Linked DNA regions of Homo sapiens: all the other regions are linked to region 4. The links come from fine-mapping of genetic effects on gene expression. A gene starts in region 4. Each other region holds a variant in brackets. All regions are shown on one strand. Distances are between the middles of the regions.

Region 1 (8,000 bases), 55 kb after region 4:
CCTGGATAACACGGCAAAACCCCATCTCTACAAAATAGTTCGCTGCGTGTGGTGGTGCACGCATGTGGTTCCAGCTACTCAGGAGGCTGAGGCAGGAGGATCACTTGAGCCTGGGAGGTCTAGGCTGCAGTGAGCCGGGACGATGCCACTGCACTCCAGCCTGGGCAACAGAGTGAGACCCTGTCCCAGCACTCTGGGAGGCAGAGGAGCCCAGTTGGAGATCAGCCTGGGTAATATAGTGAAACTTGATCTCTACAAAAAAAAGAAGAAAAAAAAAAGCCGCGTGTGGTGGTGCGCACCTGTAGTCCCAGCTACTGGGAAGCTGAGGTGGGAGGATCACTTAAGCCCAGGAGGCAGAGGTCACAATGAGCCGAAATTGTGCCAACTGCACTCCAGCCTGGGCAACAGAGGAAGACTCTTCACAGAAAAAAAAAAAAAAAAAAAAAAAGCTGCTAAGTCATTTACCATAAGTCACTGAGAACAGGGGATGTCTGACCAGATGCAAGTGCTGCTGGACCAGGCGGGCTGCTGTATCGTGGGTCAGAGTGAGCAGCTGGTTCCTGCGGACGGAATCCTATATGCAGCCAGAGATGTGACAGCCACCGTGGACAGCCTGCCACTCATCACAGGTGACCTGACTCCATGGCCTGCTTCTGCATGTTCACAGGCTCCTGACCTCCAAACTCAAGTCAAGGGCCTCTCGTTAGGAGTTACCCGTCACCTGACCGTGTGCCCCCCTACCCCCATCACAAGATGCCTGACCACCACCATGTGGGGTGGCCTGATACTCAACCCACCAGGTGCTGCCACCCCCATAATAAGGGACTTGACCCTCAATGCTCAGGGCCCCTGACCCCAAAGTCGGCATCCCCGAACTCTCCCAAGAAGCTCCAGGTTCTCCATTGTCTCCAACCTCCTCTGCCTCCCCCAAAGCCTCCATTCTCAGTAAGAAACTCGTGGAGGGGCTGTCCGCTCTGGTGGTGGACGTTAAGTTCGGAGGGGCCGCCGTCTTCCCCAACCAGGAGCAGGCCCGGGAGCTGGCAAAGACGCTGGTGAGCGGTGTGGCCTTTCCCTGGGCAAGCGTCTTGATGCGGGCCCAGCCTACCCTTCACCCCTCCCGTCCCCACTGCCTCCCTCCACTCAGCAGTCCTGCCTAACCCCAGTCCCACCCTCTTCTGCCCGAAGTCCCTCCCTCCTTCACGGCTTCCTAACCTGCTGTGACTTTAGAGGTCAAGGCTGGCCCGGCCTGGACCTGGGGAAGCCCTCTGTGGCGTTCCTGCCCCAGACCAAGTACAAGTTCCTCCTGGCCCCATGGCGAGGTGTCGCACTTCACTCGTGTCTCTTCCCCACCCCAATCCTTCCCTGACTTCATGCTGGGGGGCTGGCAACCCAGGGTGCAGCAGGGGCTGGAGTTCGACCAAGAACCGGCTGCAGAAGGCCCCGCCATGGGGGGTCCACGCTGAGCCTCCTCTCCGCAGGTTGGCGTGGGAGCCAGCCTAGGGCTTCGGGTCGCGGCAGCGCTGACCGCCATGGACAAGCCCCTGGGTCGCTGCGTGGGCCACGCCCTGGAGGTGGAGGAGGCGCTGCTCTGCATGGACGGCGCAGGCCCGCCAGACTTAAGGGACCTGGTCACCACGCTCGGTGAGGGGGACGGGGTGTAGGGGAGCGGAGGCGGCGGGGGGTGCTTCCCGCTGGGGCCGCCCCGACCCGGCCGCGCCTAAGACCCGTCCCCGCCCGCAGGGGGCGCCCTGCTCTGGCTCAGCGGACACGCGGGGACTCAGGCCCAGGGCGCTGCCCGGGTGGCCGCGGCGCTGGACGACGGCTCGGCCCTTGGCCGCTTCGAGCGGATGCTGGCGGCGCAGGGCGTGGATCCCGGTCTGGCCCGAGCCCTGTGCTCGGGAAGTCCCGCAGAACGCCGGCAGCTGCTGCCTCGCGCCCGGGAGCAGGAGGAGCTGCTGGCGCCCGCAGATGGTGAGCGTCGGGGGAGTCCCCGTCCTTCCGCCTCCGCCATCCCCTTCCCTTCCCGAGGCCCCGCCCCTTCCCGAGCCCGCGCCTCTCAGCCCCTCTCCCCGCAGGCACCGTGGAGCTGGTCCGGGCGCTGCCGCTGGCGCTGGTGCTGCACGAGCTCGGGGCCGGGCGCAGCCGCGCTGGGGAGCCGCTCCGCCTGGGGGTGGGCGCAGAGCTGCTGGTCGACGTGGGTCAGAGGCTGCGCCGTGGTGAGCGCCGCCCCCGCCCTGCTGGCCCCGCACCCCCGCCCAGCTCCGGCCGCGCGGCCTCTAACAGCCCCTCGCTCTGCAGGGACCCCCTGGCTCCGCGTGCACCGGGACGGCCCCGCGCTCAGCGGCCCGCAGAGCCGCGCCCTGCAGGAGGCGCTCGTACTCTCCGACCGCGCGCCATTCGCCGCCCCCTCGCCCTTCGCAGAGCTCGTTCTGCCGCCGCAGCAATAAAGCTCCTTTGCCGCGAAACCTTGTCAGTGCTTGGGCGGGAGCGGAAGGATCCAGGGCTGCGGAGGCGGGGGCCGTCTCGATGAACACGTGACCCCCGGCGGGCTCCGCCTTCCGCGCACGCGCTGAGAGCCTGTCAGCGGCTGCGCCCGTGTGCGCATGCGCAGCTCCGGGGACGCCTGCGCCCTGCCTGTGAGCGTGTGGCGCCCGCTTTCCCTGAGCCGGCGGGGCAGAGCGCAGGGAGCTGGAGGTCGGCGCTTCCTCTCGTGCTTGGTCCACTGACGCGCGGCCCCGCCGCGAGGTGCGGACGCCGGGGCTGGGAGGGGAGGAGGTAGCCCTGAGGACTCGCTGGACTCCGGGGTAGTTTCCCAGCTCCGGCTACTGCGCGGGGCTGGCGGGGCACACCCCAGGGCGCGCTGGAGGCCGGAGCGAGGCTGGGGCGCCCGTGGGAGGCTCCCAGCAGGCACCGGTGTTCTCGCGGCCAAGCACAGTTATAACGCGCTCGCGCGGCGCTTCGAGTGGTCCTGGAACCTTTCTGGCCACGAGGGCGCTGGCCTTGCTGGGGAGGGCACAAACCCAGAACCGCCCGGGCGGGGGTGCAGTGAGTCCTCGGGAGGGTGCCCTCAGCAGGAGGG[G/A]GCAGTGACCGGGAGTCCTGAGACCTCCACCTAGCAAACCTTCTGCGGGGGCCCGTGGGAAAGGCTCAAAGGTCACCAACGCAAAGGCAGGGCGTCGGCTGTGAGCCCGGAGGAGCTGCTGGGAAGCCTGGATGTGAGGAGGGTGGGGTTTTGTGGCGGGTGGAAGTGTCGTGCGTCTCTGCCAGGAGAGGTTAAACACAGCCGGCGGGCAGAGTCTGAGCTCCGGGGGTAGGTCGTGCAGGTTTTCTGCTGGGAGTGTGGAGGAAGGCCGCGGTTGGTTGAAGTGGCTGGAGGTAACAGGAAAGTGTTGGAGGAATCGGTTGCTCTCGGGGATTGCAAGCCAGAGAGTTACCCACCTCCTTTTAAGAAATGGGTTTATTGCAAATAGATAACGTGGTTAGTTCAGGCAAGGCATGCACTTGGAATGCTTTCCGTCAGCAAGAGGTTCACCTTGCTGAGGTGCAGGTGCAGGGCAGGGTGCGGTGACAGGCTGGTGATCCCAGGTAGAGGACAGGAGTGACAGGTGTGGTTGCCCAGGTGTGGATGTTTGGTGGAGGTGGAGTTCTGAGCTCAGGTGAGCAGCTGCAAATGCCTGTTAAGCCTGAACGTGGGCTGGGTCCTTCAGATGGGTGGCTGGTCTCAAGTCGCAGGGGCAGCCCAGGCACTGTCCTGGGCCTTCCCTTCTGGCTCCTGACGCCTGTGCTTGTTTCCAGGAGCATCAGATCCATGCTGCTGCTGACTCGGAGCCCCACAGCTTGGCACAGGCTCTCTCAGCTCAAGCCTCGGGTCCTCCCTGGGACCCTGGGAGGCCAGGCCCTGCATCTGAGGTCCTGGCTTTTGTCAAGGCAGGGCCCTGCAGAGACAGGTGGGCAGGGCCAGCCCCAGGGCCCTGGGCTTCGAACCCGGCTGCTGATCACAGGCCTGTTCGGGGCTGGACTCGGTGGGGCCTGGCTGGCCCTGAGGGCTGAGAAGGAGAGGCTGCAGCAGCAAAAGCGAACAGAAGCCCTGCGCCAGGCAGCTGTGGGCCAGGGCGACTTCCACCTGCTGGATCACAGAGGCCGGGCTCGCTGCAAGGCTGACTTCCGGGGCCAGTGGGTGCTGATGTACTTTGGCTTCACTCACTGCCCTGACATCTGCCCAGACGAGCTGGAGAAGCTGGTGCAGGTGGTGCGGCAGCTGGAAGCAGAGCCTGGTTTGCCTCCAGTGCAGCCTGTCTTCATCACTGTGGACCCCGAGCGGGACGACGTTGAAGCCATGGCCCGCTACGTCCAGGACTTCCACCCAAGACTGTTGGGTCTGACCGGCTCCACCAAACAGGTTGCCCAGGCTAGTCACAGTTACCGCGTGTACTACAATGCAGGCCCCAAGGATGAGGACCAGGACTACATCGTGGACCACTCCATTGCCATCTACCTGCTCAACCCTGACGGCCTCTTCACGGATTACTACGGCCGGAGCAGATCGGCTGAGCAGATCTCAGACAGTGTGCGGCGGCACATGGCGGCTTTCCGCAGTGTCCTGTCTTGAGCCACTGCAGTCTGGGCCCCATCATTAAACGGGCTGCGTTTAATCTGTGTGTGTGTGTGATCTGTACCAGCGGCCCAGGGAGGCCAGGCAGCCCTCTTCTCTGCGCAGGTGTACATAAAAGGGTTTTTAGGGGGAAGATGAGATGGCAACACTGCTTTATTAGGCCGGGCCAGCCAGGAGCAGACACACGGCTCCTCAGTACACATTCCCCCACCCCTGCCTCGGTGCTCCCCACTCAGGGCTGGGCCATGGAGGGGGCAGCGTAGGTCTGGAAGCGCTTGTGCGCTCGCTGGTGCGTGAGCAGTCTCAGGGACATGGTGTCCACGGCCATCTCCAGCCCGGGCTGCTGGGTTATCTCCACTGTGTAGTCATTGGCCTGCAGGGGTGGCACATCAGCAGGGTCTGGGGACCGTCTCCCCCTCCCACGTATCCCAGGCTACTCACCAGCTGCAGGGAGGCCAGCATGGAACGACACACCTCGAAGGCCGGCTGGCCAGCCACCAGCTCCGCAAAGGGACACCACTCATTGAGCTGGGGGAACCGTGAGACCAGCTGGTCCCCATAGGTGTGGATGTCAAAGGGCACATGCTGCTCCTGCACAGGGGAGGGGCATGTTGGCTGCGGAGAGAGGCAAGGCCCTGGACAGACCCGTGGCACACAGCTCTGGTTCCCAGCGGCCCCGCCTCACCTGCTCCTGGAGCAGAGGCTGCACTGTGTCCTCCCAGTCCCTGATGCGCTGGCTCAGCTCTGTCTCCTGGACAAACTTCTGGGAGGTGGCGATGAAGAGCTCCTAGGGGAGGATCAGCAGGAGCTACTGCCTCCCAAGCAGGGGCCTGGGCACCGCTCACCTGTCCCCCTCCCCTCCCCGTCTCCCTCTAACCCAGGCCTACCACATTCCTTCGAACCAGCTCCTCGTAGCTCAGGGACATCGGCACTGCGTCTGGGAAGGGGTAGCTGTGAGCTGGGCAGCTAAGGGGCCACGCTCTCCCCTGCCCCCAGCTCCAGTGGCCCCTCAGCACTCCTAGCCCGCTGCCCACCTACCAAGGTCAGCGGCTTCCCTGGGGTCTGCTCCCTCGGGCTCCATGTACTCCTCAGGCTCTAGAAAGTCATCTGCTGGGAGGTGGGAGAGTGAACAGCACGCAGGCAGCTAGTCGGCAGGTGCCAAGCCCCACCCCACCCCCTGGCAGGCACCCACCTGCTGCCCCCAGGTCTTCCAGGGAATCCTCCAGGTGGTCCTCCTCTGCAGGCCGCAGCCACTGCTCAGCCACCTGTCCAGAGAAAGCATCTGTGAGGGGCACTGTCACCTCCCATCAGGGCCACCACGGGGTCCTAGATCACAGCTGACCAGCTGGGACTTGCCTCCCTCCTCTGCAGCTTCCGGAGAGTTTCCAACTGCTCCTTCACGTGTGTCCAGTACAGGACCTCCATGTCTGCAGACAAAGGCCTTGTGAGGGCTCCCTCGTCCTTCCCAGGCCCCGTGCCAGTCCACCCAAGGCTTTGGGTGACACCAGGTGGGGGAAGAGGTAGGGGAAGGAGAGTAAAACTGTCTTCCCCGAGGACTTCAGCCTCACCTGCAAAGGACGGACCCTTTCGCCGAAGCCGCCTGCTGTCGGCATGGTCTGCATCTGTGAAAGAACATGCTCAGCACCAGCCAGGCCAAGAGCTGCCCACAGCATTGGGAAAAGGGTGCTGATCCTCCTCCACTGGCCCTGGCCCAGCCCCCAGCTCCCAGTGGTCCGGAGTGCACACCACACCCACTCACAGGCAGCCAGGTACCACTGGTGGAAGTCCTGCAGCTTGGCAGCGCCCTTCCTCTTGCGCTTCTGTCCCAGAGCCTCCTCCACACAGGGGGGCACAGAGTAAGGCCTACCTGGGGGCAAACAGGGACTGTCTTAGAGCCGCTGGGGGATCAGGGTGCAAAGCCCACTCCCACCCCCCCACCTCATGCCCCAGGAAACCCAGCCAGGGGTACCTGAGTGGAGGTACCTTCCACCCAATTACCTTTCTTGAAGGGCTTAGACTCCAAGGAGTCAAAGGGGTCCAGGCTCTGCCAGGGGTCTGGAGTCTCCTGGGCACAGAGCACAAGAAGGCGCTGGAGAAGTAGGGGGTGCACAGCCGTCCCTCCCAAAGGAGTAGGGGATGCACAGCCACCCTCCCAAAGGAAGAGTAGGGGGTACACAGCCGCGCTCCCAAAGGAGGAGTAGGGGGTGCACAGCCACCCTCCCAAAGGAGGAGTAGGGGGTTCACAGCCACCCTCCCAAAGGAGTAGGGGGTACACAGCCACCCTCCCAGAGGAGTAGGGGGTGCACAGCCGCCTTCCCAAAGCCCAGGCAACAAGTGCAGTGACAGCCTGGGGCAGAGCCGACCACACTCAAATCCTGGATCACAGAGGGGAACACTAGAGAGAGGGTGGGAGCCCAGAGTCGCATGAGGGGGTCTTTAAGAGAGCAAGTGCAAAGGGCCACAGGCTGGGAACACCACAGGCCAGCAGGAGCAAGAGCATGATGGGCAGGCAGCCAGTCCTCGAATCCGCCCATCCCTCCCTGCCGGGGGTCAGGGCCCCAACACTCCTACCTTCACGCAGGATGCAGGCTCTGGGGCCCCCTCCCGCTCCCGCAGCATGTACCTCCTGGGCAGGGCAGCACTCTGCAAAGACAGTCACAGGGTCCCCACTTCTCCTCTTTCTCCCCTCAAGGCTCTGGGTACCCCAGGAACTCCACCTTGGGTTAACATCAAGAACCCTACAAGGGTCGGGCGTGGTGGCTCATGCCTGTAATCCCAGCACTTTGGGAGGCCAAGGCGGGCAGATCACCCGAGGTCAAGAGTTTGAGACCAGCCTGGCCAACATGGTGAAACCCCCGCCTCTACTAAAAATGCAAAAAAAATTAGCCGGGTGTGGTGGCGCACACCTGTAATCCCACCTACTCGGGAGGCCGAGGCAGGAGAATCGCTTGAACCCAGGAGGCAGAGGTTGCAGTGAGCCGATATCACACCACTGCACTCCAGCCTGGGCAAAAGAACAAGACTCCGTCCAAAAAAAAAAAAAAAACCTACAGGGACCGGACACAGTGGCTCACGCCTATAATCCCAGTGCTTTGAGAGGCCAAGGCGGGTAGATCACTTGAGCCCAGGAGTTCAAGACCAGCCTGGGCAATGCAGTGAGACCCCGTCTCTACAAAAAATACAAAAATTAGCCGGGTGTGGTGGTACACGCCTGTAGTCCCAGCTACTCGGGAGGCTGAGGTGGAAGGATCACCTGAGCCTAGAGAGAGTCAAGGCTGCAATGAGCCAAGATCAGGCCACTGCACTCTAGCCTGGGCAACAGAGCAAGACCCTGTCTCAAAAATAAATAAATAAAATAAGATAAAAATAAACCCTGCTAGTACTCTCTGGG
Region 2 (8,000 bases), 25 kb after region 4:
ACCTTCATGAGGTTACAAGTTCCCTGGCAGCTCTTACATTATTTATCTATTTCTCTCTTTTCTTACTAGTGCCTTGTAGATAAATAGGTGAGCATCAAATATTAACAGAATGAATTAATGTATATTAATAAAGGTGAGGAGAGGATCTGGAGTGATGTAATTACTGTTCAACATTTTAAATAACAACGGATATGATTTATTAAGTGCTCATTACGGTAGGTACTGTGCTGAACAGTATATAATTTATTTCAATTAATCCTCACAAAACTCCACAAGATATAGGTAATACTAATAATTCCCGTTTAAAAAATACAAAACTTGGCTGGGTGTGGTGGCTCACATCTGTAATCTCAGCACTTTGGGAGGCCGAGGTGGATAGATCACCTGAGGTCAGGAGTTTGAGACCAGCCTGGCCAACATGGAGAAACCCCATCTCTACTAAAAATACAAAATTAGCCGGGCGTGGTGGCACTTGCCTGTAATCCCAGCTACTCAGGAGGCTGAGGCAGGAGAATCACTTGAACCCAGGAAGCAGAGGTTGTGGTGAGCCGAGATCGTGCCACTGTGCTCCAGCCTGGGCAACAAGAGCAAAACTTCGTCTCAAAAAAAAAAAAAAAACTCAAAAAAATTACCAAAAATTTGTCGAGAAGATGTGTAAGTTGCCAAAAGTAACACTGCTGATATGAGGTAGCGCCAAGATTTGAACCCAGGCAGCTCAATTCCAGAACCAGGACAGTCTCTATGGGGCACTGCCTCTAATGCCCAGGAGAATTCTTCTGGAAAGTTAAGTTGATTATAATTTTTTTTAATGTATGAATCATTTCATATTTTAAAATTAAACGTACCCGCCTCCAGGCTCCCATCGCTTGATGTCTGTAATTATTACATTAACTGCTTCGACATCTGTCACATCCTGGTTTGTCATATGGTGTGTGTGACTTACTCCCATATTGCACTAGAAATTCCTTAGGTACAGGAATTGTATCTTTGAAACACATCAGCACAATAGCTTGCATCTTAGTGGGTACTCAATATGGTTTTGCAAGAAAAAATTCCATGTCACCATTATGACAGACTTTTTTCATTATAATGAAGATGTTTTCTGTGTTAATGACTCCAGCCTTCAGCTACGTTTGTATGGCAAAGATGGAAGAAAGGGGAAGGACAACTTATATGTGCCGAATGCTATGCTGGGGCCTTTAGACATGTTCCCATTTAACCTTCACAACAGCCCTGTGGAGTACGTGGTATTGTCTGAATCTGAGAGATGGGGAAAGAATTCCTTAGAGAAATCACTGAGTTATAACCAGTGGAGCTGGATTTGAAATGTAGGTCTGTCTGACTGCAGCTTCTTTCTGTGCATTGCCTAGATGGATGATGCTGACCCTGAGGAAAGAAACTATGACAACATGCTGAAAATGCTGTCAGATCTGAATAAGGACTTGGAAAAGCTATTAGAAGAGATGGAGAAAATCTCAGGTAGGATGTGTGAACCCAAAAGTATCTGAGACAGGTCTCAATCAATTTAGAAAGTTTATTTTGCCAAGGTTAAAGATGCACCTGTGACACAGCCTCAGGAGGTCCTCAGGACATATGTTCAAGGTTGGCAGGGTACAGCTTGCTTTTATACATTTTAGGGAGAGAGAATACATCAGTCAGTACCTGTAAGATGTACACTGGTTCGGCCGGGCGCGGTGGCTCACTCCTGTAATCCCAGCACTTTGGGAGGCCGAGACGGGTGGATCACGAGGTCAGGAGATCGAGACCATCCTGGCTAACACAGTAAAACCTCGTCTCTACTAAAAATACAAAAAATTAGCTGGGTGTGGTGGCAGGCACCTGTAGTCCCAGCTACTCGGGAGGCTGAGGCAGGAGAATGGCATGAACCCGGGAGGTGGAGCTTGCAGTGAGCCGAGATGGTGCCACTGCACTCCAGCCTGGGCGACAGAGTGAGACTCTGTCTCAAAAAAAAAAAAAAAAAAGATGTACATTGGTTCGATCTGGAAAGGTGGGACAACTCAAAGGGGGATGATTCCAGGTTATAGATAGATTTAAATTTTTTCTGATTGGCAATTGGTTGAAAGAGTTATGGTCTAAAGACCTGGAATCAATAGAAAGGAATGTCTGGGTTATGACGGTAAGGGGTTGTGGAGACCAGAGTTTTATCATGCAGATGAAGCCTCCGGGTAGCAGGCTTCAGAGGGAATAGATTGTAAAAAGCTTTCTTATCAAACTTAAGGTCTGTGTTCATGTTAATGCTAGTCACCTTTTCCTGAATTCCAAAAGAGAGGCAGGTATAACGAGGCATACCCAATTTCTCCTTCTCCTCACGGCTTGAACCAACTTTGGCCAAGCAATACACCCACCTTGGCCTCCCAAAGTGTTGGGATTACAGGTATGAGCCAGCGTGCCTGGCCAAATAGCTTTTATTCACTAGAGCAGACTTTAGAAAATTTCTCCTTAGAAATGTTTGCAATTTTTTGCCTATGTACTTTTGAACTATGAATAGCTGAGACACGTATCAGTTAATTTAGAGAGTTTATTTTGCCAAGTTTGGGGACACTTATCTGTGACACAGCCTCAGGGGGTCCTAATGACATGTGCCCAAGGTGGTCAGAGCACAGCTTGGTTTTATTTATTTATTTATTTATTTTAAGACAGAGTCTCGCTCTGTCGCCCAGGCTGGAGTACAGTGGCGTGATCTCGGCTCACTGCAAGCTCCGCCTCCCGGGTTCATGCCATTCTCCTGCCTCAGCCTCCCGAGTAGCTGGGACTACAGGCGCCCGCCACCACGCCTGGCTAATTTTTTGTATTTTTAGTAGAGACGGGGTTTCACTGTGTTAGCCAGGATGGTCTTGATCTCCTGACCTCGTGATCCGCCCGTCTCGGCCTCCCAAAGTGCTGGGATTACAGGCGTAAACCACCGCGCCTGGCCTTGTATTTTTAATAGAGACAGGGTTTCACCATGTTGGCCAGGATAGTCTTGATCTCCTGACCTTGTGATCTGCCCGCCTCAGCCTCCCAAAGTCCTGGGATTACAGGTGTGAGCCACCGCGCCTGGCCTTTTTTTTTTTTTTTTTTTGAGACGGAGTCTTGCTCTGTCGTCCAGGCTTGAATGCAATGATGTGATCTCAGCTCACTGCAACCTCCGCCTCTCGGGTTCAAGTGATTCCCCTGCCTCAGCCTCCTGGGTAGGTGGGATTACAGGCGCCTGCCACCATGCCCAGCTAATTTTTGTATTTTTAGTAGAGACGAAGTTTCACCATTTTGGCCAGGCTGGTCTCAAACTCCTAACCTCAGGTGATCCACCTGCCTTGGCCTCCTGAAGTGCTGGGATTACA[C/A]GCGTGAGCCACCACGCCCAGCCAGCAAACAGTTTTATGTAGTGAAAAATCTATCAATATTTTCCTTTCTGATTTATTGCCATTATTTTGACACCTAGAAAGTCTTTCCTCAATCTGAGATCAGTGAAATATTTAGTTGTATTTTCTTCTACTTTTCTCCGTATTCCTTTTTAACATTTAATCCTAACCCATCTGGCATGCCAAATGACCTACGCTGCGTATTGCTTTTTTTTTTTTTTTGAGACAGAGTCGCGCTCTGTTGCCCAGGCTGGAGTGCAGTGGCACAATCTCGGCTCACTGCAAGCTCTGCCTCCCGGGTTCACGCCATTCTCCTGCCTCAGCCTCCCGAGTAGCTGGGACTACAGGTGCCCGCCACCATGCATGGCTAATTTTTTTTGTATTTTTAGTAGAGATGGAGTTTCCCCGTGTTAGCCAGGATGGTCTCAATCTCTTGACCTCATAATCTGCCTGCCTTGGCCTCCCGAAGTGCTGGGATTACAGGAATGAGCCACCGCACCCAGCCGCATATTGCATTTTTATATAAATCTGCTACAGGCTGGGCACGGTGGCTCACACCTGTAAACCCAGCACTTTGGGAAGCCGAGGCAGGAGGATCACAAGGTCAGGAGTTTGAGACCAGCCTGGGCAATATGGTGAAACTCCATCTCTAATAAAAATACAAAAATTAGCTGGGCGTGTTGGTGGATGCCTGGAATCCCAGCTACTCAGGAGGCTGAGGCAGGAGAATCACTTGAACCCAGGAGACGGAACTTGCAGTGAGCCGAGATCATACCATTGCACTGCAGCCTGGGTGACGGAGCGAGACTCTCTCTTCTGTGATAGTCCCTGGGCATAGAGGGAGGGTGTTTGTATCGTTTTAGCAGCAGGGCATTTGCAGTGTAACAGATCCGGGCCCAGTGCGATGCCAAATGAGGGAGATTCATATCTTTGGTCATCTGCAGAATACCATGATTTTAGTTTCCTTGGAAGCAAAATGAGGGGAGATAAGTTTGACAATTATAAGAGTAATTTGTGCATTAGAACAGAAAAAGGAACCTATTCCATTAGGGCACCAACGAAAAATATGAGGAAAAGTTACAATCTGGTCCTCTCTAGAGGATTATTGTAGCCAAGAAACAATGATTTAATTTGCACTCAAAAAAACGTTATGGCTGGGCGCAGTGGCCTGTAATCCCAGCACTTTGGGATTTTATTTATTTATTTATTTATTTTGAGACAGGGTCATACTCTGTCACCCAAACTGGAGTGCAGTAGTGCAATCTTGGCTCACTGCAACCTCCACCTCCCAGGCTCAAGGGATCCTTTTTTTCATCTCAGCCTCCTGAGTAGTTGCAACTACAGGTGCACACCACCATGCCCAGCTAAATTTTGTATTTTCTGTAAAGACAGGGTTTCAACATGTTGCCCAGTCTGATCTCAAACTTCTGAGCTCAAGTGATCCACCCACCTCAGCCTCCCAAAGTGCTGGGATTATAGGTACCAGCCACCTTGCCCGGCCAGCCACCTTCTTGTATCCTCACATAGAGCCTCACATATCCTTGCATAGAGTGAGAGTGAGCTCTTGTGTCTCTTCTTTAAGGGGTGCTAATCCCATTCAGGAGGGTCTACCCTTAGGACCTAATCATCTCCAAAAGACCCGACCTCCTAATACCATCACGTCGGGGGTTAGGATTTCAACAGGTGAATGTGGGAGGGACACATTCAGTCCATAACATGTGTGCCAGGCAGTTTACATATATCACCCATTTAATTCTCACAGTAAGCCATGAGATTGGTAGGGTCTCCAAAGATGAGGAGACTGAGATTTATGTATATATAACCTCCACCTTCTGGGTTCAAGCGATTCTCCTGCCTCAGCCTCTCTAGTAGCTGGGACTACAGGCACCCACCACCACACCCGGCTAATTTTTATATTTTTAGTAGAGATGGGCCAGGAACACTGGCCATGTTGGCCAGGATGGTCTCAATCTCTTGATCTCGTGATCTACCCCCCTTGGCCTCCCAAAGTGCTGGGATTACAGGCGTGAGCCACCGCACCCGGCCGAGATTGATACATTGCAGACACTTGTTCCAGGTCACAGAGTCGTCAGGTGGGGAGCTGGGAGGCGTACTCTGCTCTGGCCCCAGGTCCCTGCTGCACCTGCTGTCCAGGTAGTCTGCGGCCTCCCTGCACCGGAACGATCTGGGATGCTTGTGAGGATTCCACAAAGAGGAATTTTAAGGGGATGTGTTTGCTATGTACAGTTGGTTGTCATGCAGAGGGGAGATGACCTTTGTTCTGTATAGTTGCAGAGGGCTGAACCACACCAGCCGGTGGACTATGCAGAGAAAAAGTTGGAGGTGGGATTTCTGCACACACTTCTTTGAGTTCACACAAGAAGCATGTGTTCACCTATAGGCCCAGGGAATGCTACCTTCGAGTTGCTGTCAGAGGGAAAGAGCAAGAGAGCCCATCAGTGCATTGGTAGATGGTCAAGGACACCTTCCCAAGAGGAGAAGCCCCAGGCCTGGGCCTCAACGAAAGCATAGAGGTGCCCAGGTGGAGGTGGGCAGGCATCCCAGGCCACTGAACATAAGGTGACATGAGGTTTGGGTCTTGCAGGACTGGAAACAATCAACTCTACCTGAGTGTGTGAGCTTGGGTGGATGACTCCTTAGGGGTCACCTGCAGCCATTGGCTGTGAACTGCTTGTAGGTAAGGAGCTGCGGTTTGCTCTAATTCTCCTCACATTTCGTATCAGACCAGCCTCTAGTTTTTTACATCATGTCTGGTGTATCCAGAAGTTATGCCTTGCATGAGACTAGGAAGCGTCACTATGGATGTTTGTAGGGAGTTTTTATGAGCCTGTAACAAGTAGCCTACCAGCTGTCTCTCCCTAGAGTAATTGGGTGCCTCAGCAGGATCTGGGCCTCCAGATGCTGAGCCCAGCTGGAGGCATCTGACCCTTCTGGGGCACCCCAGAGCTGCAGCCCCTCCCTGTGGCCTGACCAGTCCTGTCTGCTTGTTGCAGTGCAGGCGACCTGGATGGCCTATGACATGGTGGTGATGCGCACCAACCCTACGCTGGCCGAGTCCATGCGTCGGCTGGAGGATGCCTTCGTCAACTGCAAGGAGGAGATGGAGAAGAACTGGCAAGAGCTGCTGCATGAGACCAAGCAAAGGCTGTAGGCCCCACTGGCCCACCACAGCTGCCATGCCACCCTCTGCCCGTATGAAGAGGTCACTGGGGGATGGAGCTGGCACCCACATGAATAGCTGTATGCACTGTACTTGTTTCTTAATAAACTTATTTTTAAGCACAGCCCGAGGACCTCTTCTCTCCTGTGCCATGATCCACCCAGCTGCATATCAAACCTTGTGAACAAAACACAACAAGTGCAAGCTGCAGGTGCTTTCGGTGAATTAAAATGTATTTGGTGCCAGTGGTGCTGAACATAGAATAAAAAACAGAAAAAGGGCCCAGACAGGGACATCCAGGCTGGAGGTTGGAGTGGAGCACAGTCAGATGTATTCACTTTTCTAGCATGGGTTTCAAAGTGCGTAAGGGGAGAAAACGCATCATGGATTGTGCTGTGCATCCTGGACACCGTGCGAGGTGCTCATAGCTGTGATCTTGTCTCCCACAACTCTCTTGGGTGACAGACGTCCACTGTCCACATTTTATAGACAAGGAGAAAGGGAAGTCAAATGTCTCGTCCAAGTCTACACAGCTAAAAAGGGGCAGAACTAGGGTGACGCTCAGGCCTCATTTAGAGATCGGGGGTTGGCGAGAAGTGGGGTGGGCTTCTGGAGGGGCTGGGAGAGCCCCACAAGGCTGCAGAGGGTGGTGAGCCCGGAGTGGGCCTGGCCTGGTGTGGGCTGGGGGTATGGGCAGGAGCTGCAGACAGCAGGGCTGCACCAGCGGACCAGTTTCAGAGGCAAGGGTTCTAGGCCCTTGAGAATCCACAGTGCCAAACAGACCCAGATAGCTACGGGGTTGGTACCTGGGGAGGCCTTAGGACAGGCAGAAAGTCCCAGAGGCGAGGGCGTTGCCTGGGGACGTTTTTGCTCCCTGTCCTGCTGACAGAGCATAGGAAGTGTGAATGTTTTCTACCCCCTCCTCTCTCGGCTCAGCAGAGCTCCAGCGAGCCAAGTCCTTGTCTGTGGAGACGCATCAGTCCCTGGCTCTAGGGAATAGGGAGTCCCACAGACAGGGGGGTGTCAGCAAGCTGAGAGGGTCTGTAAGTAGGTACGGAATTGAGTCAGGAAACAGTCTGGGTGTGGAGTGAGGGGCAGAAAGAGGCTGAGGGAGTCTGGGCTTCAAAATAATCGACAACCTTTAAAGCAGAAGGGGAAAGTTGTCCAGAAACAAGAGCAGGAAGTTCCGATCCCAGCCCCTTCCCTGAGCCCCGGCCTCTCAGGCCCATCCCAGGAGGGTCTCCCTGGAGAGCAGCGAAGCAGCTTTGGTTCTCTGCCTGCCACTCAGAGTGAGGTCTGCAGCCGGTCCTCAGGGGGCAGAGTCAGGATGAATGGACTGAGGACCCCGGTGCTCCCCAAGGGGAAGGGCTGCAGCTCCTTGGCCTGGAACTGGGCAGTCCCCCCAGAGACCGTGAAGGTGGCAGTGACCTGGGGGTTGAGGCAGTAAATGGTGTTGCCCA
Region 3 (8,000 bases), 820 kb after region 4:
TGAAGGCCTCAGGAATAATGAGTGAATTCTCCTCACTCATTTCTGCAAGCCATTCTTGAGGCATCCAGCCCTGTGACCCAAATGCCTCCCACTAGGCCTACCTCCAGCATTGGAGATCTCATTTCAACATGAGATTTGGAGGGGACAAGACATCCAAACCATATCTAGAAGTCTTACCTTCTCTTCCGTTATGTTGAAAAAATGTTTGAAGGATTAGCGTTTCTTATTTAAATGCTTGGTAAAGCCCTTCCCTGCCCTGCGCTGCTGGGCCCGTAGGTCTCTGTTGAGCCACAGACGTGGGTCTCTGTTCCATAGGATGGGGTTTGTTAAAATTAAGAATAAGGCCTGCTTTAAGAGATACCAAGTGAAATTTAGACGATGAGGCGAGGGTAAAACTGATCACTATGCTCAGAAACATTTGGTGATACAGGATAAAAATAAACACCACATATCCAAATACAGGATGATAGTTTGTGTAACAAACAGAGATATCATTTGTTAGATTGCTTATGCCCGTATAGAGGGGGATATGATAGTCTGTGTAGCATATGCACACGAACTGCCAAAATATAGTGTGAAGGTTGGCCTGACAAATGACACTGCAGTGTATTGTCCTGGCCTGCTGCTGGCCCGCAGGCTTCTCAATAGGTTTGGCCTGGACAAGATCTAAGAAGGCCAAGTGGAGGTGACTGGCGATGAATACAGTGTGGAGAGCATAGATGGTCAGCTGGGTGCCTTTGTCTACTCTTTGGATGCAGAGCTTGCCAGAACTGCCGCTGGCAATAAAGTTTTTGGTGCCCTAAAGGGAGCTGTGGATGGAGGCTGGTCTGTCCCTCACGGTACCAAACAATTCCCTGGTCATGATTCTGAAAGCAAAGAATTTAATGCAGAAGTACACTGGAAGCACATCATAGGCCAGAATGTTGCAGATTACATGCGTTACTTAATGGAGGAAGATGAAGATGCTTACAAGAAACTCTCTCAATACATAAAGAACAGGGTAGGCCAGGCGCAGGGGCTCACATCTGTAATCTCAGCACTTATGGAGGTCGGGGTAGGGCAATCACTTGAGGTCAGGAGTTCACAATCAGCTGGTCAACATGGTAAAACCTCGTCTCTACTAAAAATACAAATATTAGCTGGATGTGGTGGTGGGTGCCTGTGATCCCAGCTACTTGGGAGGCTGAGGCAGGAGAATCACTTGAACCTGGGAGGTAGAGGTTGCAGTGAGCTGAGATCGCGCCACTGCACTCCAGCCTGAATGACAGAGTGAGACTCCACCAAAAAAAAAAAAGCTTAACTCCAGACATGATGGAGGAGATGTATAAGACAGCTCATGCTGTGGCCGGGCTTGGTGGCTCATGCCTGTAATCCCAGCAGCTCGAGAGGCTGAGGCAGGAGAATCGCTTGAACCTGGGAGGTGGAGGTTGCAGTGAGCCAAGATTGCGCCACGGCACTCCAGCCTGGGTGACAGAGCGAGACTCCATCTCAAAAAAAAAAAAAAAAAAAAAAGAAAGCTCATGCTGCTATACAAGATAATCCAGTCTATGAAAAGAAGCCTAAGAAACAAGTTAAAAAGAAGAGGTGAAAACGTCCCTTGCTCAGAAGAAAGACTGGGTAGTTCAAAAGAAGGCAAGCTTCCTCAGAGCTCAGGAGCAGGCTGCTGAAAGCTAAACCAAACAATTTCTATGAGGATTTTCCAGATAAAGACAATAAGCTTGTTGACAGCAACTAAAAAAAGAGTGTGGTAGAATTCACAAGTGAAGTCGTCCGTCCTTGTGCTTTTCAGTGTGGAAATTTCAAAAATTACTATTTCAATCTGTTTACTTGTTGAGTAAGTCTTTGTAGTTTCCTTCAGTAATTTGTCCATTTAATCGGTTATGTAATTTGTTGGCATAAAATTGTTCATAGCATTCTCTTATCATCCTTTTTATTTCTGTCGGATCTGTAGTGATATCCCATCTTTCATTTTTGATTTTGATAATTTTTTTTTTTTGAGACAGGGTCTTGCTCTGTCACCCAGGCTGGAGTGCATTGGTGCAGTCATAGCTCACTGTAGCCTTAACCTGCAGCCTGGCCCTGAGAAAAGGCCAGCAGGGCAGGAGGGTCACCCAGACAGGTGGACGGGCTGCTGTGCTGGCCTGGTCAGTCGTGCATCTGAAGGGATTTAAGCTGAGGCCATGACATGGCTGGAGGTGAGTTGTAGAAGAGGCCAGCCCAAAGCACTGGCATCCGCACCAAAGCCCCTGTGGACACTGATGTCTGAAATTGGAACTGACTACAGTGGTCAACAGATGCTCTGGGACCCCTACCATAGCCTGGGGGACACACCAGGGACTGGGGCTTCAGCAACAGGAAGAGACCTTCAACCACGGGCTTGTGGTTCATGGGGACTCGGACAGAAGCACACAGTCACTGTGGGGTGAAGGTGGAGGGACACAGCAGGGGCTGGAGAGGGCGGGGCTGTCATTGTGTGGGCATCAGGGCAGGCAACTCTGAGGAGGGGGGCACTGTGCAGGGTCCCCATCATTCACCTGCAGGAAGAGGGGCAGAGCTGGCAGGATTCCAGCCACATGCTGGGCGAGCACGCGTGGGAGGACCTGCTCTGCTGCTACCATCTTGATTTTCTTTATTTTTGCTTTTATTTCCTTAGAGACAAGGTTTTGCTGTGTTGCCCAGGCTGGTCTGTAACTCCTGGGCTCGAGAGAATCCTTCTGCCTCAGCCTCCCAAAGTGGTGGGATTACAGGTATGAACCATGGTGCCTGCATGGGGCCCACAGGTCTGGAGCTGTGCTTTGCTGGGGGCCCCTGTGGGGGACGTGGGAGTCAGGACCCTCCAGCTGTAACAGGAAGGGGCCGGGGGCTGGGGTCATGGCTGGACAGCCCAGTGGAGGTGAAAGTCAAAAGCTGTGGGGAGGGGAGTTAGGACAGCCAGGCCGAGACTCAGAATTCTCTGGAAAGAGGGAAGGTCCCGTGAGTGGGTGGTGTCTGGGTTCTGGGCACTGCACTTGGAGGGGGAACAAGGAAGGGGCAGTGAAGTGGCAGAGGGAGGGCCCCCTGTTACTGGACAGGCAAGACCCCAAACTAGGGCTTAGCCTGGGAGGGTTCTTGGCTTCCCCAAGGGGAATTCAAGGGTGAGCTAGTGGCGTTGGACAGCAGTCTTTCATTGAACGGTACTGCTTCTTGAGGACAGGGCTAACTCCTAGGCAGTGCACCCACAGCCAACAGTGTATGGGTGCTTGGCAGCTATACTTATACCCATGAGAACCCACTTTCAATTACATGCAAATTAAGGATGGGCCAATGCAAATTGAGGGGCAAGTCATTTTAGAATTTTCTAGGAAAAGGGCAGTAGCCTCTGGGTCATTGCCATGAAAAGGGGTGGCACCTTATGGGTTGTTGCCATGGAAAGGGGTGGCACCATATGGGGCGTTGCCATGGAAAGGGGTGGCACCATATGGGTCATTGCCATGGAAAGGGATGGCACCGTATGGGGCGTTGCCATGTAAAGGGGTGGCACCGTATGGGGCGTTGCCATGGAAAGGGGTGGCACCGTATGGGGCGTTGCCATGGAAAGGGGTGGCACC[T/G]TATGGGTCGTTGCCATGGAAAGGGGTGGCACCTTATGGGGCGTTGCCATGGAAAGGGGTGGCACCTTATGGGGCGTTGCCATGGAAAGGGGTGGCACCTTATGGGGCATTGGTAAACTGTCATGGCACTGGTGGGCATGTCTGATGCCAATGAGCAGTGAGGGCAGCCAGGGATCTGCCTCTCATCGTCTGCTGGTTTCTGCTGGTTTTTTCACTTCATCCTGCCTGGACCAGGTCCTGGTTGGGTCAGTGGGGCTGGGACCAGAAAACTAGTCCTGCCAGTCTCTTACCTCACCTGAATGCCAAGGGGAGAAGCTTCTAGAAGGAGGAGGGTCGGTGGGGGGCAGGAGCTGGGCTGGAAAGGGGCTGCAGCGGGGGTGGGGCAGGTTGGGTGAAGGCGGTCGGGGTTGCTGTGTGGGGGACAGGGCATGGGAGGGGGCTTCCCGCGGAGGGCCTGCTGTGGAGGGAAGCAGGAGGGTCTGCTCTGGGAGCAAATGTGAGGCGGCCCCACTCCCGTGTCCGCTCCAGGGACCCTGTCCTCCCAGGGATGGGGAGGTGAGGCTGCCCTGCGATGTGCAGTGGCAGGGGGCTGGGAGCTCACAGAGGAGATGCTGCCGGGCCTGCTGGGAGCCAGGCTGAACTGCAGACAGGCAGGGATGCCGGCAGTGGGGACGCTGGGCTCTGCCGCAGATGCCTCCCCTCCTGCAAGACCCCTCGCAGGGGTGTGGGCTGCGGAGGCTCCCGGCCCCGCCCACCTGTCCGTGCCCTGAGGAGTGGAGGTGAGGGCTGAGCCCTGGAGAACAGGGTTGTTCTGATGATGAGTGATATTTCCAGTGTCCTCTCCTGCGTCCTGCAAGACAGGCTGTGCCCGGCGACTTCCCAAACAAAACACTAAATGCTTGGCATGAGGTGTTGGAGGAGGTGCTGCTGCCTGGCAGCAGATGCTGGCAGGAAGACACTGGGTCTCCGGGCAGAGGCCCAGGACGTGCCCCCAGGAGTCCTTCCCCTCCTGTCCCATGCGATGCTTCTCCGGGCCTTTGACGAGTACTTCAGAACATCTCATCTCATCCCTGCCACTGGGCACAGCTGGGGCCTGGAGAAAGGCACAAACTTATAAGAGGAAAGAGCTGTGAGGAAGGTGATGTTTCAGTGGCTAAACAGCCACTCTTCTCCCAGGAGCCATGCACTGAACCCACGTACACCAGAGGCCCATGGGCAGGTCTGGTCCAGGGAAGCCAAGGACAGGCCACACACATCCACAGCCTGCGGGAGGGTCCTGGCGAGTGTCCCCTGGGACCAATGGCTCCCTCAGGCCACTCTGTCTTGCCAGGGGAGTCAAGAGGTGCCCAGAGGTCAGATTCTCACCAAGGGAGCGCCAGGCAGGCTCTGAGAGCTGCCAGAGGCCAGAACCCATATCCTAACGCATTAGCCGTCTGGCCCTGCCCCATGTGTCTTCAAGGGGACAAGACTGGAGGGCAGAGTGGAGGAGATTCAGGTGTCCAGGCACCTGCTGCCAGGTGGGAAGTGTGATGAGGCCTCTCCCCACACTCCCTGCTTTGTGGAGGAGGCTGAGCGCAGCGGCCCTGGCCCGAGAGAGCCCTTGGGGTGCACGTGCCCCAGCAGGTGCGTCTGTGCAGGAGGCTGAGCGCAGCGGCCCTGGCCCGAGAGAGCCCTTGGAGTGCACGTGCCCCAGCAGGTGGGAGGCCAGCCCCACCCTGGATCACACCTGCCGTCCCTGGCGGTTCTGAGAAATTGCACTGTGAATGATGAGGTTCAGCTGGACTTTCTCCTGATAGATTCCTGCAAGTTAATTGAAAATAAAATGCACAAGCTTTTCTTTTAATGAGAAAAGGCAGATGTAGCTGGAACTAATCAGTGGGGGGCTGGGGCAAACTCAGAGACTGTGGAAGGAAAATAGAAGTTTGAAGGCATTTGAAAAACACGGCAATTCTCCCCAAACAGTGCCACGGTGATGCATTAATATCCTGAGTTCCGAGTTGTTGCTCCCGAGGCGATGACGACCCGTTACCCGGCACAATTCCCAGTTCCACTGTCGTTATCTCTTAATTAAATCACATTACTGTGGGTTTGCTGTCACAGTTTTACTGATGGTCCCTAGGAAGCTGCTTGGAGAGCCAGGAGCTGCAGCGTTCGGGGGCTGGCCTGGGCCTGAGGTCCACGAACCACGGCCCCTGGGCCCCTTCCAGCTCTGCTCCCCACCCGCACCCATCACTCTGCTCTTGGGGTGGTCCTGGCCCTGGCTACATCCCTCCTTCCTTCCCATGGACGTTCTTAGAAATGGGCTTGGCTGGCCGGGCGCGGTGGCTCACACCTGTCATCCCAGCACTTTGGGAGGCTGAGGCAGGTGGATCACTTGAGGCCAGGAGTTCGAGATTAGCCTGGCCGACATGGTGAAAACCCACCTCTACTAAAGATACAAAAATTAGCTGGGTGTGCTGACGCATGTCTGTAATCCCAGCTACTGGGAGGCTAAGGTACGAGAATCGCTTGAACCAGGGAGATGGAGGTTGCAGTGAGCTGAGATTACGCCACTGTTCTCCAGCCTGGGCCTGGGCGGCAGAGCAAGACTCTGTCTCAAAAAAAAAAAAAAAAAAAAAGAGGAAAGGGCCTGGCCACAGTTCGGCAGCAGCTCTCGATGCTGAGGGTGTCAGTGGCTGGTCCTCAGGCGTCTGGCCGTGACCTTCAGCCGCGTTATTCTCTGCACTCAGCCGAAAGACCCCCCCCGAGGTCTCGTGATTAGAACTCCCTGAGCCCTGGAGACCTGCTGTGGGAACCCGTTGTGTTAGCGTCTGTCCTTGTGTAACAAGGTCACCACAAATCTTGCAGCTCAAAACGACACACATCTGTCATCTCAGTCTCTGTGGCCAGCGGTCTGGCGCCACTTCGTGGGGTCCTCTGCTGGGCCCACAGGCTGCCATCAGGTGGCGGCTGGGCTGGAGGCTGAGCTGGGGCAGAGTTCACCTCCACGCTCACTCAGGGTGCTGGCAACCATCCGTCCTTCCAACTGTAGGACTGACGGCTTCATTTTCTCACTGGCTTTTGTCCAGAGGCTGCACTCTGGTGCTAGAGGCCACCGAAGGTCCCAGGTACGTGGTGTTGCCCAGCACGGCTGCTGTGTTCCCGCAGCAAAGGAGACAGCGGCTCCAGCAAGGCAGGGTCACAATCGTGCGTGGTGTGGTCGTGCACACACACTTAGCCACGGACACTCTATCGCTTTGATCCTATGATGTGGCTTAGGAGCAAGAAACAGGTCCCGGCAACACCCAAGGGGAGGGGACCAGGAAGGGGCACAAACCCCCGAGCTGGGAGCGCCGACAGGTGAGGGGCACAGGCTCCAAGTGCATGCTGGGGATAAGAAAGGCCGAGGTACCCACGCTGGGTTTGCAGAACAAGCCCGAACCCCACCCCCTCCTCTGTCCAGTCTGAACCACACCCCTCCTCTGTCCAGGCTGAACCCCACCCCCTCCTCTGTCCAGCCTAAACCACACCCCTCCTCTGTCTAGCCTGAACCCCACCCCTCCTCTTTCCAACCCTGCCCCCTGTGAAGTTTCCTCAGCTTTTGCTTTTGTTATCGTGGGCATCCAGGCCCTTTCTGTTCAGTGTCCTCCTTCCCACACCCACTCCCCCTCTGTCTTCCTCAACATCCATCCCTTTGTCATTGAGAATCCAGACAGCGGCTGTTTCTAACCTCTTTCCAGGGTCAGAGTAGCCCTGGTGTGTGCCTGGCTGGGCTCCAGGCCTGCGCCTCCCGGGTTCTGGGGGGGCTCTGGGATGTGGTCCTGCCAGCGGCCTCTGACAGGGGACGTGGGGCACCATGTGCAACCCCTCTCCTCCCTGGAGCAGCTTTTCTGGCCCAGAGGCTGGGAAACATCTTCCCCTCAGGGTTTGGTCTTCATTCTTCTTGTTCCCGCTGAGAAACCACAGCCAGGTGGGCGCTGGAGGGAGCTGAGGGGCACCTGCCTTCCCGTCTCCTCTGCTCCTCCCAGGGTCACCTGCCCACTCGGCCGCAGGCTTGGCCTGGGCCTGGAGTGCACGGGCCATGTGTGGCCTGGGACTGGCACGCACGGGCCATGTGTGGCCTGAGACACGGTGTGATCACTTTCTGTATGATTTACTTCTGGAGCCCTGATCCTTGACTGATGATCAATGTGAGGTCCTTGCAAGTAAATTCTACCTGTCAGGCTAGATGCCAAAACATGTAGCATTCACAGAAAAGAAAAGTCTGGGCCGGGCACGGTGGCTCACACCTGTGATCCCAGAGCTTTGGGAGGCCGAGGTGGGCGGATCACAAGGTCAGGAGATTGATACCATCCTGGCTAACACAGTGAAACCCCGTCTCTACTGAAAATACAAAAACAAAATTAGCCGGGCCTGGTGGTGGTCGCCTGTAGT
Region 4 (8,000 bases):
GCCCCGCCGCCCCGCCGGCTCCCACGGGGCAGAGACGCAGCTCCTCTCCGGTCTTCCCGTACGCTACCGCGCCCGGGCAGTTCCTCGCCCGCGCACGCGCCGCTCCGCCAACTGATTGGCCTCCGGCGCCTCGGATTGGCCCAGGCCGTCCAACAGCAGCCCCGCCCAGAGAGAGACCATTGGTCCTTGCCCATAGGGGCGGGGCCCGGCAGAGATCTGCGGAATTCGGCCTTCGGAAAGAGCCCCCGGGCCGGGGCACGGAGAGAGCCGAGCGCCGCAGCCGTGAGCCGAATAGAGCCGGAGAGACCCGAGTATGACCGGAGAAGCCCAGGCCGGCCGGAAGAGGAGCCGAGCGCGGCCGGAAGGAACCGAGCCCGTCCGAAGGGAGCGGAGCGCAGCCTGGCCTGGGGCCCGGTCGAGCCCGCGCCATGGCGGCCGAGGCGACAGCTGTGGCCGGAAGCGGGGCTGTTGGCGGCTGCCTGGCCAAAGACGGCTTGCAGCAGTCTAAGTGCCCGGACACTACCCCAAAACGGCGGCGCGCCTCGTCGCTGTCGCGTGACGCCGAGCGCCGAGCCTACCAATGGTGCCGGGAGTACTTGGGCGGGGCCTGGCGCCGAGTGCAGCCCGAGGAGCTGAGGGTTTACCCCGTGAGGTGGGAGGTCAGGGGTCAGCCTCTCCGGTGCGCGGATCGGGGTCAGGGGTCAGCCGCGGGGCCCTCAGGATGCTCCATGTTTTCGCCCCCCTCTTGCGCCCGCGCCTGGGGCGGGGCGGGGCCGGCCTGGCCGGGAGGGGGCCGGGGCCGCGGCAGGTAGGGCCGGCCGCGGGCTGAGCGCGCCTGGTGTGGGTCTGCAGCGGAGGCCTCAGCAACCTGCTCTTCCGCTGCTCGCTCCCGGACCACCTGCCCAGCGTTGGCGAGGAGCCCCGGGAGGTGCTTCTGCGGCTGTACGGAGCCATCTTGCAGGTGAGGGGGGTGTGAGCGCCGCAGCACCAGTGGCTTTAGGGCCTGTCGCTTACGCGATGCGGGTAGTATTGTTCCCGTTGCGCAGTTGAGGACACCGAGGTTCACGGTCTGAGTAACACCTCATTACACCGAAGCCTGGGCCTGTATTCCCAGAGCTTTGGGAGGCTGAGGCGAGAGGATCACTTGAGCACAGGAGTTCGAGACCAGCCTGGACAACATAGTGAGACCCCCATCTCTAAATAAAAATAGACCAACGCTAAAGCCTGTGCTCCAGAGCCTCCAGGCAATTGGATCAGAAGTCGCAGCTCTGGTGGGAGGAAGGCGAGCCCTCATGTGTGTCCCTGTGCCACTTTGCCTTGGCCCCTTTGCTGTCCATCCTTTTTCAGGGCGTGGACTCCCTGGTGCTAGAAAGCGTGATGTTCGCCATACTTGCGGAGCGGTCGCTGGGGCCCCAGCTGTACGGAGTCTTCCCAGAGGGCCGGCTGGAACAGTACATCCCAGTACGGGCCCAGTCCTACCCTCTCCTCCCCAAGGCACCTCCACCCCCTAACCCTACCCCAGTGCCCAATGTCTGCCTCCACATCCCTCACCCCAAGTAGGGAATTTCCCCCAAAACCCTGACTTCCCCTCATTGCCCCAGCCCTTCCCACTCCTGCCCCAGCCCCATCACCACCCTGATAGCTTCCTGGGTGCAGAGTCGGCCATTGAAAACTCAAGAGCTTCGAGAGCCAGTGTTGTCAGCAGCCATTGCCACGAAGATGGCGCAATTTCATGGCATGGAGATGCCTTTCACCAAGGAGCCCCACTGGCTGTTTGGGACCATGGAGCGGTGAGTCAGGAGCCTCCTCAGGGCTCCTGTACTCCTGAGCTGAACCTCCATGCCAGCGGATGTGTCGGGGGCTCTATCCAGCCCTCCACTTGAGTGGATCTGATGTCATGGGCTGTCACAGAACAGGCTTTTAAATGCTTGCCAGAGGCCACATGCAGTGCCTCATGCCTGTAATCCCAGAACTTTGGGAGCCGAGGTGGGTGAGGTGGGAGGATCACTTGAGCCCAGGAGGCGGAGGTTGCAGTGAGCTGAGCTCATGCCATTGCACTTCAGCCTGGGTGAGAGCAAGACTCTGTCTCAAAACACCAAACAAAAAAAGAAAAAAGAAATGATTGCCAAGGCCAGGCACGGTGGCTCATGCCTGTAATCCTAGCACTTCGGGAGGCTGAGGTGAGCAGATTGCCTGAGCTCAGGAGTTCAAAACCAGCCTGGACAACACAGTGAAACCCTGTCTCTATTAAAATACAAAAAAATTAGCCAGGCATGGCAGCATGCACCTGTAGTCCCAGCTACTCGGGAGGCTGAGGCAGGAGAATTGCTTGAACCCGGGAGGCAGAGGTTGCAGTGAGCCAAGATCGCGCCACTGCACTCCAGCCTGGGTGACAGAGCAAGACTCCATTTCAAAAGAAAAAAAGAAATGATTGCCGGACAAGTCACACAGTGATAGGAGCAGGGGTGCAGTAGTCTGGCCTGAGGGGTAGATAGGCGAGGGGTGGGAAAGAATAGCAGAGCCAGTGTATCCTATTCTTTGGGCTTCAGGTACCTAAAACAGATCCAGGACCTGCCCCCAACTGGCCTCCCTGAGATGAACCTGCTGGAGATGTACAGCCTGAAGGATGAGATGGGCAACCTCAGGTGAGGGCAGGCAGGACAAGGCTAATGGTAATGGTGTCCGCCCTTCCAGTAGTTGCTGAGGGCTGGTGTCAGGGCCTGGCCTGTTAGGGTGGCTCTGATCCTCCTCTAGTCACTCCTGCTCAGGACCCATGCTCCCATACCCCTGTAGGAAGTTACTAGAGTCTACCCCATCGCCAGTCGTCTTCTGCCACAATGACATCCAGGAAGGTAGGAGAAGGCATCTGAGTCTCCTAACCCAAGATGGAAGAGCCAGAGGGCTCTGGAGTGAGCAGAACCTCACCCCATTCCCCCAGGGAACATCTTGCTGCTCTCAGAGCCAGAAAATGCTGACAGCCTCATGCTGGTGGACTTCGAGTACAGCAGTTATAACTATAGGTGAGGCTGGAAAGATGGCTTCCCATAGATCTGTTCCCATAGGGCTCTTGAAAACAGGCCAGCTGCCCAGGGCATTTGGGGACTGAATGTCCACCTTATTCTCCCAGGGGCTTTGACATTGGGAACCATTTTTGTGAGTGGGTTTATGATTATACTCACGAGGAATGGCCTTTCTACAAAGCAAGGCCCACAGACTACCCCACTCAAGAACAGCAGGTATGTGGGCCAGAGGCTGGGGAGCAGGACCCATCCTGTGAGGAAGGAGGGAGGTGGAGTCTGGAAGGAATGGCCGGAAAGGATGTTACCTGGGAAATACTCCACAGTCTCCCCAATTCCTGACTCTTGGCCATTGATCGTAGTTGCATTTTATTCGTCATTACCTGGCAGAGGCAAAGAAAGGTGAGACCCTCTCCCAAGAGGAGCAGAGAAAACTGGAAGAAGATTTGCTGGTAGAAGTCAGTCGGTGAGGAAGGAGGGGCAGGGTGGGGTAGGGCAGAGCAGAGGAAAGAGGGATTGGGGAAGAGGCAGATTTATCAAGCTGCAGGGAAGGTGGCTGTGGAGAGTGGAGTTAGGACAGTGGGGGAGAAGTTAAAACTGTAGGGATTGGCCAACCTGGGTGAGGGGATCCAAGCAGTGCTAGACATGCTCTTGAATGCCCCTCCTTTTCCTGCCCTCCCCCCAGGTATGCTCTGGCATCCCATTTCTTCTGGGGTCTGTGGTCCATCCTCCAGGCATCCATGTCCACCATAGAATTTGGTTACTTGGTAAGTGACCCTGGGGATGGGAATGCTAGCTGGGGGGCTGGGGAGCAGCAGCAGCCACACTCTTCCAGGAGGCCTGGGGAGTCCCGGGTGGCTGTGGGCAGCCTGAGGTGGATGTAGAATGCTGGTCCCACGTCTTCTCACCACTGTGTGGGGTGGGTTTCCTTCCCTAGGACTATGCCCAGTCTCGGTTCCAGTTCTACTTCCAGCAGAAGGGGCAGCTGACCAGTGTCCACTCCTCATCCTGACTCCACCCTCCCACTCCTTGGATTTCTCCTGGAGCCTCCAGGGCAGGACCTTGGAGGGAGGAACAACGAGCAGAAGGCCCTGGCGACTGGGCTGAGCCCCCAAGTGAAACTGAGGTTCAGGAGACCGGCCTGTTCCTGAGTTTGAGTAGGTCCCCATGGCTGGCAGGCCAGAGCCCCGTGCTGTGTATGTAACACAATAAACAAGCTTCTTCTTCCCACCCTGTCCTGGCCCTGCTGAGCAGCAGCAGAAAGTACCAAACCGAGCAGTACACACAAAGGGACTCTTCAGTGCTCTGGGATTGAAAGTGGTTAGCGTTCATGCTGCCAGTTGGGGTCCCCCATCCCTCCCCAGTCCCCTGGCTGCAGCTTAGAATAATAAATACTAGGACTTGGGGAGGAGGAGAGTGATGGGGGTATGAAGACGACCCTGAGGTGGGGATGCCGCCCGGAGCACCAGCGATCCCAGAACAGGCAGCAGCTGACACATCGGTGACCTTTTCCCTACATTTGGCTATTTTTAGCTCTAAAGCCACCATCCTCACGAGACTCTGGGGCCCCCCAGGCTCCCAGACCTTTGAGCAACCTTCACCGCACAGAAACCCAGCCGCGCCCTGCAATTCCCACCGCGGAAGGTGGGTGGGTTCTGGTTCTCGCCCCACGTTTTTCCCCGACCCCGATTTGGGAGTAGGTGTCAGGTTCCTGGTGAGGGCGGGGCGGGGGTGGCTAGGCCTGAAGGACGTGGGGACACGGGCCAGAGTGGCTGGCCCCACGCACGGACAGGAGTGAACCCGAGCTGTGAGTAGGGGCCGGCACAGGGCGGCCCGCGGGGGTCTGGGCCCTCAGCCCTGCACAGGGGCGAGGACGGCGCTGGGGCCCGCGCGCTCGGGTGGGGAAGGGCGGGCTCCCGAACCCTGCCTCTGTCCAGGCCGGCTCCACTTCCAGGGGCGCCTCTCTCCCCTGCCCGCGCCCTCGCTGACGCCCCCCAACTCCAGGCTGCCCTTCGCCGTCCTTGGGGCTCCTGGAGCTTTCAAGGCCCAAATCCCCTGCACCACAGTGGCTGTGCCCACCCGGAAGGCTGGCGCGAGGATTTGGCGGCGGTTGGCCTGGCGGGGGGCGCGGGCCGGGGGCAGCCGCTAGTCGCGGGGTGGGGGGCGCGAGGGGTCGCGGACTGGCTGGGGGCGTCTCGGCGCGGCTGGCGGCGGGGCCGGCCTAAGCGCGCCCGCGCACCCATCTGCCCCCGTCCTAGGTGCCGACCAACCCCCAGGATGGCGGAAGCTCACCAGGCCGTGGCCTTCCAGTTCACGGTGACCCCAGACGGGGTCGACTTCCGGCTCAGTCGGGAGGCCCTGAAACACGTCTACCTGTCTGGGATCAACTCCTGGAAGAAACGCCTGATCCGCATCAAGGTGCGCACAGGTGCTTCTCCCAGAGCGTAGGCAGAGGCCGGCTGTCAGCTGTTAAGCGCTTTGTTAGGGTCCCTCACTGCCTCCTTGGCTGGCACTTCTGCCCGGTACAGGTTGTGGAAGTACAGACACCAGAGGGGTGCACAGGATGTGGTCGGACACAGGGAGCTGTGGGTGTGGCGGAGGAAGGAGCACAGCAGGGCATCAGGAGAGAAAGCCTTCCAGGCCAAGACCAGGAGCCAGTTCCCAAGACTTCACAGGCAGGCTAACCTCCCGCCTTCCGGCTCCATAAGGGCGCCTGTTTCTGCCCACAGAATGGCATCCTCAGGGGCGTGTACCCTGGCAGCCCCACCAGCTGGCTGGTCGTCATCATGGCAACAGTGGGTTCCTCCTTCTGCAACGTGGACATCTCCTTGGGGCTGGTCAGTTGCATCCAGAGATGCCTCCCTCAGGGGTAAGGAGTGAAACTGGAAGGGCACAGGTGCCACCAGGGAGGGCTGGGCCCAGCTCCCAAGGCTGAGGTTCCTGAGCTGGGCAGATACAGGACAGCAGCCATTGGCAGTCACGGGGCAGCCCTCCCCTATGACAACCATTGTCTTAGCCCTACATCCGCTCATTTGATGCAGTCAGACATGAGTGTGCCCAGGGAGGTTCTTCCCCTTGGTGTCTCCCCTGAGACAGTTCACAGCCACCCGAGGCTGGCCTCAAGAGGACCCCCTGCAGCCCTTGCCCCTCTCCAATAGGTGTGGCCCCTACCAGACCCCGCAGACCCGGGCACTTCTCAGCATGGCCATCTTCTCCACGGGCGTCTGGGTGACGGGCATCTTCTTCTTCCGCCAAACCCTGAAGCTGCTTCTCTGCTACCATGGGTGGATGTTTGAGATGCATGGCAAGACCAGCAACTTGACCAGGATCTGGGCTGTGAGCAGCAGCCAGTGGAGGGGTTCAGGCACCTGGGTTGAGACTCTTTGGACTCCTTTGGGGTTCTGAGCTAGACGGGAGAGGCAGACAGGGCACTGGTGCCTGGTGTGTGGTTTGTCCTGGAGGGGCTGGGATGGCTCTGAGGGTCTCAGGGAGTTGCTGGTTGGTTTCCATTTTTTCCACTGGCTCCCACCCCAGCACTCTGCTCTGTACCCCCAGATGTGTATCCGCCTTCTATCCAGCCGGCACCCTATGCTCTACAGCTTCCAGACATCTCTGCCCAAGCTTCCTGTGCCCAGGGTGTCAGCCACAATTCAGCGGGTGAGGGCCTCGCTTGGGCATCCCAGTGGGCAGGGGAGGTTGGATTCAGGAGATGTTTCCAAATATAAGGTTCTGTGCAAAGAGTGGCCTTAAGGGCTTGAGAATAATGGGGCTGGGTGAGGAGGGAGAGGTGGGAAGAGGATTAAGATAGAGGCAGCCCTTGCCATCTGGCCCCACGGTGATGATAACTGGCTGGACAGTACCTAGAGTCTGTGCGCCCCTTGTTGGATGATGAGGAATATTACCGCATGGAGTTGCTGGCCAAAGAATTCCAGGACAAGACTGCCCCCAGGCTGCAGAAATACCTGGTGCTCAAGTCATGGTGGGCAAGTAACTATGTAAGTTCCTGCCCCTGGGCTCACTGTCACCTGCCATGTGTCCTGGCTGCACCCGCCCCAGCTCTAACCTTCCACCTCCCCACAGGTGAGTGACTGGTGGGAAGAGTACATCTACCTTCGAGGCAGGAGCCCTCTCATGGTGAACAGCAACTATTATGTCATGGTATGAACTAGAGCCCCCAGGTCCCCGCACGTGCTCAGCTCTGTCCCAGCTCCAAGGCAAGGGATCTGGAGGACAGCCCAGAGCTCTAGTAGCAGCTTCCGTGGGCAAGTGGGGGTTATGGAGTGAGGCCTGAGGGAAAGGGAAGAGAGAGAGGAGATCCTAGAAGAGTCCAGAAGCAGCTTAGGGGCAATGGGGATCCTAAGGATGAGGAGAGTGGAGACCGCCAGCCTGCCACCGCTTCTCAGAGTCCCGGGGTCACTGCCCCTGCCCAGCTCGGGCTCTGTCACCTCTTTCCTTGGTTTCCTCACTGGCCTCCTGGCCATGGGTTCCCAGCTGTCCTGACACCATAACCAGGGAATTGTCTAGAACGTGTCTTGCTTTGTGTCCCTCTGCAGAGCCGGACAGCAGAATGGAGGCCAGGCTGCTGCTTTTAGAGCTCAGGAAGTCAGTCTGCCTCTGCCCCATGTAACTGGCCCTTCTGAGTCTCTGGGTCTCCCAGCCACCTGGGCTGTATGGCATGCCTCTTCTCTCCTTTCCCACGGTCCAAAGCACACTTGACTTGCCAGAGCCTACTGGAATTCTCCTCCATAAGCTGTCCTTCCAGGAACTTACACACAACTTGCCCATAGCAGAGGTTTTAAACTGCTTTTTAGTGGTAGAACCCCTTTATCAAAGCAAAAGAAGTAGAATATAAGCACATAAAATAGCTTATAAAAAGGCAGCTCGGGCCGGGTGCAGTGGCTCACGCCTGTAATCCCAGCACTTTGGGAGGCCGAGGCAGGTGGATCACAAGGTCAGGAGATCGAGAGCATCCTAACACGGTGA

What was found. PIP is the estimated chance that this variant, and not a neighbour inherited with it, causes the effect.
Region 1: its variant is fine-mapped to the expression of CPT1B in whole blood (TOPMed, PIP 0.98).
Region 2: its variant is fine-mapped to the expression of CPT1B in thyroid (GTEx, PIP 0.97).
Region 3: its variant is fine-mapped to the expression of CPT1B in naive CD4 T cells (Schmiedel 2018, PIP 0.95).

Annotation. Positions count from the first base shown.
Region 1 is chr22:50,520,217-50,528,216 of GRCh38, reverse strand. NCAPH2 (non-SMC condensin II complex subunit H2) reads right to left here. Exons shown (of 20, transcript NM_152299.4): 10 at 7,181-7,252; 11 at 6,608-6,674; 12 at 6,369-6,476; 13 at 6,178-6,231; 14 at 5,966-6,036; 15 at 5,802-5,874; 16 at 5,648-5,716; 17 at 5,497-5,546; 18 at 5,295-5,396; 19 at 5,051-5,200; 20 at 3,437-4,982. The coding sequence ends at 4,842. SCO2 (synthesis of cytochrome C oxidase 2) reads left to right here and starts at 2,619. Exons shown (of 2, transcript NM_005138.3): 1 at 2,619-2,745; 2 at 3,793-4,649. The coding sequence starts at 3,806. The coding sequence ends at 4,606. TYMP (thymidine phosphorylase) reads left to right here. Exons shown (of 10, transcript NM_001953.5): 5 at 500-629; 6 at 934-1,052; 7 at 1,479-1,641; 8 at 1,741-1,971; 9 at 2,076-2,216; 10 at 2,299-2,465. The coding sequence ends at 2,447. RefSeq lists enhancers at 678-827, 848-1,047, 838-1,409, 1,218-1,517 and silencers at 1,608-2,437, 2,648-2,947. The variant G/A (reference allele first, on the strand shown) is at 3,080.
Region 2 is chr22:50,549,776-50,557,775 of GRCh38, reverse strand. KLHDC7B (kelch domain containing 7B) reads right to left here. Exons shown (of 1, transcript NM_138433.5): 1 at 6,753-8,000. The coding sequence ends at 7,825. SYCE3 (synaptonemal complex central element protein 3) reads left to right here. Exons shown (of 3, transcript NM_001123225.3): 2 at 1,371-1,479; 3 at 6,374-6,664. The coding sequence starts at 1,371. The coding sequence ends at 6,531. Among named protein-coding and RNA genes, the nearest start is that of KLHDC7B-DT, 4.8 kb to the right of the region's middle. The variant C/A (reference allele first, on the strand shown) is at 3,342.
Region 3 is chr22:49,751,297-49,759,296 of GRCh38, reverse strand. It overlaps the pseudogene RPL5P35. Among named protein-coding and RNA genes, the nearest start is that of BRD1, 73 kb to the left of the region's middle. The variant T/G (reference allele first, on the strand shown) is at 3,588.
Region 4 is chr22:50,575,210-50,583,209 of GRCh38, reverse strand. It overlaps CPT1B (carnitine palmitoyltransferase 1B), which reads left to right and starts at 4,783. Exons shown (of 20, transcript NM_152246.3): 1 at 4,783-4,824; 2 at 5,276-5,435; 3 at 5,747-5,886; 4 at 6,176-6,353; 5 at 6,573-6,674; 6 at 6,875-7,012; 7 at 7,098-7,175. The coding sequence starts at 5,295. It overlaps CHKB (choline kinase beta), which reads left to right and starts at 361. Exons shown (of 11, transcript NM_005198.5): 1 at 361-652; 2 at 853-961; 3 at 1,348-1,461; 4 at 1,657-1,790; 5 at 2,550-2,645; 6 at 2,794-2,852; 7 at 2,939-3,020; 8 at 3,128-3,236; 9 at 3,380-3,483; 10 at 3,703-3,784; 11 at 3,955-4,247. The coding sequence starts at 429. The coding sequence ends at 4,029. CHKB-CPT1B (CHKB-CPT1B readthrough (NMD candidate)) reads left to right here and starts at 211. Exons shown (of 30, transcript NR_027928.2): 1 at 211-652; 2 at 853-961; 3 at 1,348-1,461; 4 at 1,657-1,790; 5 at 2,550-2,645; 6 at 2,794-2,852; 7 at 2,939-3,020; 8 at 3,128-3,236; 9 at 3,380-3,483; 10 at 3,703-3,784; 11 at 3,955-4,174; 12 at 5,276-5,435; 13 at 5,747-5,886; 14 at 6,176-6,353; 3 more. CHKB-DT (CHKB divergent transcript) reads right to left here and starts at 184. Exons shown (of 4, transcript NR_110536.1): 1 at 1-184. RefSeq lists silencers at 1-214, 245-334, 665-864, 4,752-4,871, 5,212-5,291 and 1 more and an enhancer at 6,776-7,070.